2 separate regions of the Homo sapiens genome follow, and region 1 is linked to region 2. The links come from fine-mapping of genetic effects on gene expression. A gene starts in region 2. The other region holds a variant in brackets. All regions are shown on one strand. Distances are from middle to middle. Region 1 has its middle 16 kb from the start of TBC1D9B. Region 2 holds the start of MGAT4B (alpha-1,3-mannosyl-glycoprotein 4-beta-N-acetylglucosaminyltransferase B).

The links. PIP is the estimated chance that this variant, and not a neighbour inherited with it, causes the effect.
Region 1: its variant is the best candidate, but not a certain one, in a credible set for the expression of MGAT4B in whole blood (TOPMed, PIP 0.57).

Annotation. Positions count from the first base shown.
Region 1 is chr5:179,921,647-179,925,646 of GRCh38, reverse strand. It overlaps a transcript of RNF130 not described here. Among named protein-coding and RNA genes, the nearest start is that of TBC1D9B, 16 kb to the right of the region's middle. The variant G/A (reference allele first, on the strand shown) is at 1,806.
Region 2 is chr5:179,804,650-179,809,161 of GRCh38, reverse strand. MGAT4B (alpha-1,3-mannosyl-glycoprotein 4-beta-N-acetylglucosaminyltransferase B) reads left to right here and starts at 2,296. Exons shown (of 15, transcript NM_014275.5): 1 at 2,296-2,675. The coding sequence starts at 2,579. It also overlaps a transcript of SQSTM1 not described here. RefSeq lists silencers at 1,552-1,721, 1,892-2,451, 2,682-2,751, 2,882-3,011, 3,022-3,441 and an enhancer at 2,479-3,140.

The DNA.
Region 1 (4,000 bases), 120 kb before region 2:
TGAGGCAAGACAATTGCTTGAGCCCAGGAGGTTGACGCTGCAGTGAGCTAGGATCGCACCACTGCACACTCCAGCTTGGGCAACAGAGTGAGAGCACCTCAAAAAGAAGAAAATAATAAAATAAATAAATAAATAAATGAAAAAACAGAAGAAACCCAGCCATGCTTCTCTAGTTCCAATGCCTGTTATTTCTCTTTTTGGTTGACAGATGCGTAGGGCAAGGCATGTGAGAAGCAGCTTGGAGTTCAGTGCCCTCCCCTACCGGTACCTCTACGTGTTTAGCTATCCCCGAAGTATCCCAGTCCCAATCTTTTGGGTTTTTATGGAGGCTTCATTACGTGGGCATGACTGATTAAACTGTTGGCCATGGGCGATCAACTTAACTTTCAGCCCCTCTCCGCTCCCTGGAGGCTGGGGGGTGAGGCTGAAAGTCCCAGGCCTCTAGTCCTGCCTTGGTCCTTCTGGTGACCAGCCCCATCCCGGAGCTACCTGGGGGCTGCCCGCCTTCACCCACCTCTTTAGCATATGAAAGATACCACTGTGGAGATTCTGAGGATTCTAGCAGTTGTAGGCCAGGAAGCCCGGATAAAAACCAAATACACTTTTCACAATATGGCAGATAGCTTTAATTCATCCTGAAGAGAGGAAACTCCCCTGTCATCAGCTCTTTGTTTTTCATCTTCCTCCCTTAGTGCTGTTGGATTGTGCTGATGCTTCTGGGGGCTGAGGATCCTTTGTCAGAAATGAAATAGCTCATATTTTATGTGGGACCTTGCTCTTAGAGGGCTACTGTGGATAGATAGGAAGCATTTTTGAATTGATCCCATTTTAAATTTTTTATTTATATTTAATTTTTTTTTGAGATAGCCTCACTCTGTCACCCAGGGTGGAGTGCAGTGGCACCATCTTGGCTCACTGCAACCTCCACCTCCCAGGTTTAAGCAATTCTCCTGCCTTAGCCTCCTGTGTAGCTGGGATTACAGGCACCCGCCACCATGCCTGGCTAATTTTTATATTTTTAATTCACCATGTTGGCCAGGCTGGTCTCGAACTCCTCCTGACCTCAGGTGATCCACCCACCTCGGCCTCCCAAAGTGCTGGGATTACAGGCATGAGCCACTGCGCCCAGCCTGTATTTATTTTTTTTTTTTTCAGACAGAGTTTTGCTCTGTTGCGCAGGCTGGAGTGCAATGGCACAATCTCAGCTCACCGCAACCTCCGCCTCCTGGGTTCAAGTGATTTTCCTGCCTCAGCCTCCCGAGTAGCTGGGATTACAGCCATGCGCCACCATGTCTGGCTAATTTTGTGTTTTTAGTAGAGACAGGGTTTCTCCATGTTGGTCAGGCTGGTCTCGCACTCCCAACCTCAGGTGATCCACCCGCCTTAGCCTCCCAAAGTGCTGGGATTACAGGCGTGAGCCACCACGCCCAGCAGTAATTTTTATTTATTAAAAAAAAAAAATTGTTTAGGGACAGGGTCTCACTGTGTTGCCCAGGCTGGACTTGAACTCCCGGGCTCAAGCGATCCTCCCACCTCAGCCTCCCTAGTAGCTGGGATTACAGATACTGACCATCAAGCTGGACTTCATGCCAATTTTTTAAATGCAGAAGACTTTTAATATAGAAAAGTTAAGAAAACAGAGGTTGCCCTGCAGCTCATGAGCTAGCACTGAAATGCTTTCATTTAATACTCGTCTGTTGAGTAATCTGCTGAGATTATATGCGCAAACCTCCGTGCCCATCAAGTTCGAGAATTTCTAATCCTAATTTCAAGACCTGTAAAGCTACAGTAATCAAGACAATATG[G/A]TGTTAGTGTTGTTAAAAGAAAAACTTTAGGGAAACTAAATTTAACAGAGTTTAATTGAGCAAGAGTGATTGAAGAATTGGGCAGCCCCCAGGACCGAAATAGGTTCAAAGCAACTCCAGGGCTGCACCGTGGTTGGATTTATGGACAGAAAAAGGGAAGTGAGGTACAGGAAAGGGAAGTGAGGTACAGAACCAGCTGGATGGGTGAAGCTCAGCCTTTGCCTCACTGAACACGCTTTGCACTGTTGGCCACCTGTGATTGGCTGAAACTCAGCCGCTGGGATTGGCTGAGACTCAGCTCCTTGGTACAAGAATCGGTTACAGTCTGTCACACATCCATTTAGGTGACAGTTCACTGTGTATGGAGAAACCTTTAGGCCGAACTTAAAATATATAAGGAAGCAGTTTAGTCTAAATTTAATTTAACAGCATAAAGACAGACAAATGGATTGCTAGAACAGAATAGTGCCCAGAAATAGACCCACACATTTACAATCAATAGATTTTCCATAAAGGTGCCAAGACAGTTCAGTGGGGGAAAGGATAATCTTTTAAACAATCGACGACGGAACAATTGGATATCCATATGCAAAAAAAAAAATGAACTTCAACTCTTATTTTCTGCCATTTTCAAAGATTTACTTGAAGTGGACCATCTAAGTGTGAGAACTAAAACTATAAAGCTTCTAGATGAACATGTACGAGAAAATCTTAGTGACCTTGGGATTCTTAAATCTGACACAAAAAGCACAAACTATAATAGGAAAAAATCAATAAATTTGATCTTACCAAAATTTGAAACTTTTAATCTTCAAAAGACATTGTTATAACAATGTCAAGGCAAGTCACAGACTGGGAGGAAATATTTGCAAAATGTATGTCTGGCAAGACTTGTATCGAGGATTATTATTATTATTTTTTTTTCTGTAGCACAGGCTGGAGGGCAGTAGTGTAGTCTCGGCTCACTGCAGCCTCTGCTTCCCGGACTCAAGCGATCCTCCCACCTCTGCCTCCCAAGTAGCTGGGACTACAGGTGCTCACCACCACACCTGGCTACTTTTTGTATTTTTAGTAGAGATGGGGTTTCACCATGTTGCCTAGGCTAGTCTTGAACTCCTGAGCTGAAGCCATCTGGCTCAGCCTCCCAAAGTGCTGGGATTACAGGCATGAGCCACTGTGCCCGGCCTAGAATTTTTTTTAAACCCTCATACTTGATAACACGAAGACAGCCCAAGCCGGGCGTGGTGGTTTGTGCCTATAATCCCAGCACTTTGGGAGGCTGATGCAGATCGCTTGAGCTCAGGAGTTCGAGACCAGCCTGGCCAACATGGTGAAACCCCATCTCTATTAAAAATACAAAAATTAGCTGGGCATTGTGGCCCACGCCTGTAATCTCAGCTACTTAGGAGGCTGAGGCACAAGAATCTCTTGAACCCAGGAGGTGGAGGTTGCAGTGAGCCGAGATGGCGCCATTGCACACCAGCCTGGGCAACAGGGCAAGACTCTGTCTCAAAAAAAATTAAAAAAAGAAATTTTTTTTAAAAGCCCAGTTTTTTTAATGGACTAAAGATTTGAACAAAACACTTCACAAACGAAGATACACGGTTGGCTAATAAGCCCATGAAAAGATGCTCAACGTCACTAGTCATCAGAGAATGCAAATTAAAACCACAATGAGAAGCTCCTACACTCCTGCTAGAATGCCTAAACTTTTCCAAGACTGACCATGTCAAGTGTTTGTGAGTATGAAAAGGAGCTGAGACTACCATAGGCTGCCGGTAGGGCCATCTTTTTTTTTCTTTTTCCTTTTTTTTCTTTTTTCAGACGGAGTCTCACTCTGTCACACAGTCTGGAGTGCGGTGGTGCAATCTCCGCTCACTGCAACCTCCGCCTCCTGGGTTCAAGTGATTCTCCTGCCTCAGCCTCCCGAGTAGCTGGATTACAGGCACCTGCCACCATGCCTGGCTAATTTTTTGTATTTTTAGTAGAGACGGGGTTTCACTATGTTGGCCAAGCTGGTCTTGAATTCCTGATCTCGTGATCCACCCACCTCGCCTTCCCAAAGTGCTGGGATGACAGGCGTGTGGCGCGATCTTGGCTCACTGCAACCTCCACCTCCTGGGTTCAAGCGATTCTCCTGCCTCAGCCTCCCAAGTAGCTGGGACTACAAGCACATGCCACCATGCTCAGCTAAT
Region 2 (4,512 bases):
AAAAAAGGCCGGGGTGGTGACTCACGCCTGTAATCCCAGCATTTTGGGAGGCCGAGGCAGGTAGATCACGAGGTCAGGAGATCGAGACCATCCTGGCTAACACGGTGAAACCCCGTCTCTAATAAAAATACAAAAAATCAGCCGAGCGTGGTGGTGGGTGCCTGTAGTCCCAGCTACTCGGGAGGCTGAGGCAGGAGAATGGGGTGAAGGTGGGAGGCGGAGCTTGCAGTGAGCCCAGATAGTGCCACTGCACTCCAGCCTGGGCGACAGAGCAAGACTCCGTCTCAAAAAAAAAAATAAGATAAACTAAAAATAAATAAATAAATAAATAAAATTACAAAAAAATCCAAAAAAATTTGTTTTAAAATTTTTAATGAGATGAGGTGTCACTATGTTGCCCAGGCTGGTCTTGAACTGATGAGCTCAAATGATCCTCCTGCCTTAGCCTCTCAGAGTGCTGGGATTACAGGCATGAGCCACCACACCCGGCTAATTTTTTGTATTTTTTAGTAGAGACGGGGTTTCACCGTGTTAGCCAGGATGGTCTCGATCTCCTGACCTCGTGATTCGCCTGCCTCGGCCTCACAAAGTGCTGGGATTACAGGCATGAGCCACCGCGCCCGGCCTCTGGGTGACTAAGTTTTAACATTAAGTAACTCATTAACAATTTCTAAGGCCCTTTATGTCACAACCTAAGTGAAAAGCCATTATCCTTTGCCACAAATAGAAGACACCTGTGAAAACACGACAGTTTCCTCTAGAAGGCTCCTATAAGTCCCAGTCTCTAGTTCGGAAAGTTCCAGGAGCACTGAGTGGGGAGCCCTCTCCTTTAACAGGGGGCCTCAGGATCCAGCCCACTTCAACCTCTGGCTCGGCCACCCCCTTCTTGGCATCAATCTCTCTGTCCAGACCCCTCGAAGCTCCCGATTCCACTCAGCCCCAGGTGTGGGCCGGGGCTGAACTAGGAAGACAAAGCCGCATTCAATCTCAGTCTGAGTCCAGCCCCTCGGGCCTCCCCCGGGCGGGTGGGGCAGAGGTCCCTGCAGCCTCCACCAGGAACCGGGCCCCTAGGTCTGGGAGGTCCAAGCCGGCAGCGGGCCAGGCGCTGCCCAAAGCCTGCCCAGAGGCGGCGCTGGGCCAGTCCCTTTATAATTTGCGCCCTTCCTGGTTCCACAGAGGATTGAGGAACGCCTGAAATTAGAACGCAAATGGGCCGTGCGTGGTGGCTCACGCCTGTAATCCCAGCACTTTGTGAGGCCGAGGCGGGCGGATCACAAGGTCAGGAGTTCGAGACCAGCCTGGCCAATACGGTGAAACCTCGTGTCTACTAAAAATACAAAAATTAGCCAGGTGTGGTGGCGGCCGCCTGTAGTCCCAGCTACTCGGGAGGCTGGGGCAGGGGAATCGCTTGAACCCGGGAGGCGGAGGGTGCAGTGAGCCGAGATTGCGCCACTGCACTGCAGCCTGGGCAACAGAGCGAGACTCCGTCTCAAAAACAAACAAACAAAAAACAACAAAAAACAACAACAACAAAAAAACAATGAAGGCGTGGGCCCCCATCAATATCGGGCTGGGCTGGGCGGGGCGAGGTGGCCCCTACACCACCGGGGGCAGGGCCCGTTGCTCCCGTTAGCGGCGCTCTCGGGCCGCCCCTGCCCCGGGAAGCCGGTACGGTTCTGGGCTGGTCACTGCTCTGCATCCACGAGCATCGGCCCTGATACCGCCTAGAAAGGCCCATCGTTCCCGCCTCCCGGGCCCCTGCGCGCCTCCGTCCAGAGGCCCAGAGGAAGCTCCTGAGCGGGGAAGCGCCCTGGGCGGCAGCGAAGGCAGCGGTCGCTCCCGGCTTCAACCGCCCAGTCCCCCGCGCCACCCAGAGCCCCTCACGCCCGGGAAAGAGCCCCGAGAACGTGCGAATGGGGTCGGGGTCCGCGCGCGGAGGAGATGTTGCTGAGAAGGGTACCGGGGTCCCGGAGCGCCGCCCCCGCCGCCCGCCCCCCGCCCCGGCTGCGGTCGACCTGCACTCCCACTCCAGCCTTACCTGAGGCCGACTCGCACGAGCCCACGCGGGGCTGCGGGAGCCGATCGGGATCCCGGCCGCCGGCCCCCACCCCACCCCCTCGCGGCGCCGGCGACGGCGGTGCTGCGGCCCCTTTAAATCCGGGCCGCCCCGCCCTGCGCCGTCGACTCCGCGGCGGCCCCAGATCCAGGCCCCAGATCCAGGCCGGGCCGCGGCTCTCGCCGCCCAGCCCAGCCCAGCCCGGCCCGGCCCGGCCCTGCCGCGGAGGCGAGGCCGCCAGTGTCCCGCGCCCCTGATATCTGCAGTGAGCCTGATACCTGCCTCTGCCCTTCTGAGCCTGTTCCTCTTCCCTGAGTACAGGGCACAAAGCTTGCGCCCTGAGGGGCGGCCGGCGCGCTCCCTGGCCCGGTCCCCGCCCGGCCCCGGGCCCCCCGCCCCTCCCCGACCCGGGGCCGGGGCCCCTGCCGCCGCCGCCGCCGCCTTCCGACCCCTGCGCCCCGGCCCCGGTCCCCCGGGCCATGCAGCCTCGGCCCCGCGGGCGCCCGCCGCGCACCCGAGGAGATGAGGCTCCGCAATGGCACCTTCCTGACGCTGCTGCTCTTCTGCCTGTGCGCCTTCCTCTCGCTGTCCTGGTACGCGGCACTCAGCGGCCAGAAAGGTGAGCGCGACCCCCGCCCGGCCCGCACCTGGCGCACCTGGGCGTCGGCGGCGGGAGCGGGCCCGGCGGTGGCCGCGGAAGGCGGCCGGAAGCCGACGCAGGCGCCCCTTCCCCGCCCGGGCGGCGCGAGGACGCCCCTCCCACCCTCCCCCACTTGTTTGCTGCTGGAGCCGCGGCGTTCTCCTCGGGCCCGGGCCGCGCCCGTGGGTGCTCCGGACCGGACTCCGCGGGCGCAGCTGTCCCGACGCTGAGCTGGGGACCCGTGGGGTTCTCGGAGAGGGGCAGAGACCCAAGGTCACAGAGGTCCCGGAACGCCAGCCACAGCCACCTGGGCAGGAGCTGGGGCGGCGTGAGGGACACAGGCGCGAGGGCACCCCCCCACCCTGCTGCCTGCTGCCCCGCGCCGGCCTGGGCGACCCCGGCGTGACACCCGGTCCTGGGACTCCCTTCGGCGCCCAGAACGCGTCGGCAGCATCCGGCCTGTGGGAGGGAGGGAGGGAGGGAGGGAGGCGTCCTGAGGCAGCCCGGCCCCTGCTGCCCTGCGCTCCCGTGCGGCCCCAGCCCGTCCTCCGCACCCCGAGCTTCCCGGGCTGGCCCCCGCCCTCCGCGTGCGCCCAGCGCTCTTGCAGGCGGAGGGTGCGGGCCGATCCCCCCGCGCCGCCCCGCTGGCCGGTCTTGGCGATGGTGGGGCCGAGTAGGGCCTGAGCCCTCGGAGGCGCTCTTCCCCCGGCCTGGAGGTTCCGGGAGAGTGGCCTCCTGCCTGCCTGCCTGCTGGAGGCCTAAGCGGGCTGAGTCCAGCTGCCCCTCGGCCTCCCCGCCACCTGCTTCCCTGTTTCCCTGTCCCGGAGCGCCATCCCAGAGAGGCTGCGGAGGAGGGCGAGGGAACCTGGACCCTTCCGGACCCTCCGAGCTCCATCTACCCACGCCGAGCTCTGCCAGCACGCCCGCCTGCCGCACTTGTTCTGCCAGAGCAGAGGCCTGGGCTGGCCTTGGGGCTCCAGGGCCAGAGAGGCATCACCCAGGGACTCTGCGGGGAGCCTGCCTGACACGGGAGGGATGGCTGGGCAGAGGCCGTGCTGGCGGGGTATATTATCAAGGGCAGGCATGGCTGGGGCAGAATTCTCTGTAGGTAGGGTGTGTCACCTGGGGAAGGACATTCTGGGTCCTTGGCAGGGTGACTATAAAAGCACACTGGCATGAAGGCCTAGGTGGGGCCATATCTGAAGGGCTGGGGCATGCTCTTTGAGTCGTGGGTAGAGCCGTGAGCCCTTGCCCTTTGTCCTGAGCCAGTGTGTGCCTCCCGCAGCAGCCACATGCCCGCGGATTGATGTCAGGAGCCACCTCTGCAAGCCTGGCTTACCACAGGGAGCCAGGCTCCAGGACAGCAGAGTGAGGGAGAGGCACTGGCTCCATGGCACCCACTGTGTCTGGGGGGCATCCAGGAGGCTGGCTCTCTGAGGGCCTGGGGAACAGGAGAGCAAAGAAGGGGAGCACTTAGATTCACGAGCCCAGCCCCTAGGGGATAGAAGCCTAAGGATCCTGTGAGGTATGAGTATGGGGTGACATAGGCCTCCCTTGTCGAGGGGCTGTCACTGTTTCTGTGGTGACCCAGTAGTACCAGGTCTTTGGAGGCCTCAAGAGAAGCTGGGAATCTGGGCTCTTATGTGAACCCATCTCGTTGTCACATGTAGAAAATCTGTCTTAAACCCCTGGTGAAACCAGACGTAGCCAGTCGGAGGCCAGATTGGAACCTGGCCTCCACTTTGCAGCCAGCGGGGGTCCAGGAACTTGAGGGAAGGACCCAGGAAGTGGAATCTGCAGGGAAGGAAGGAGGTGG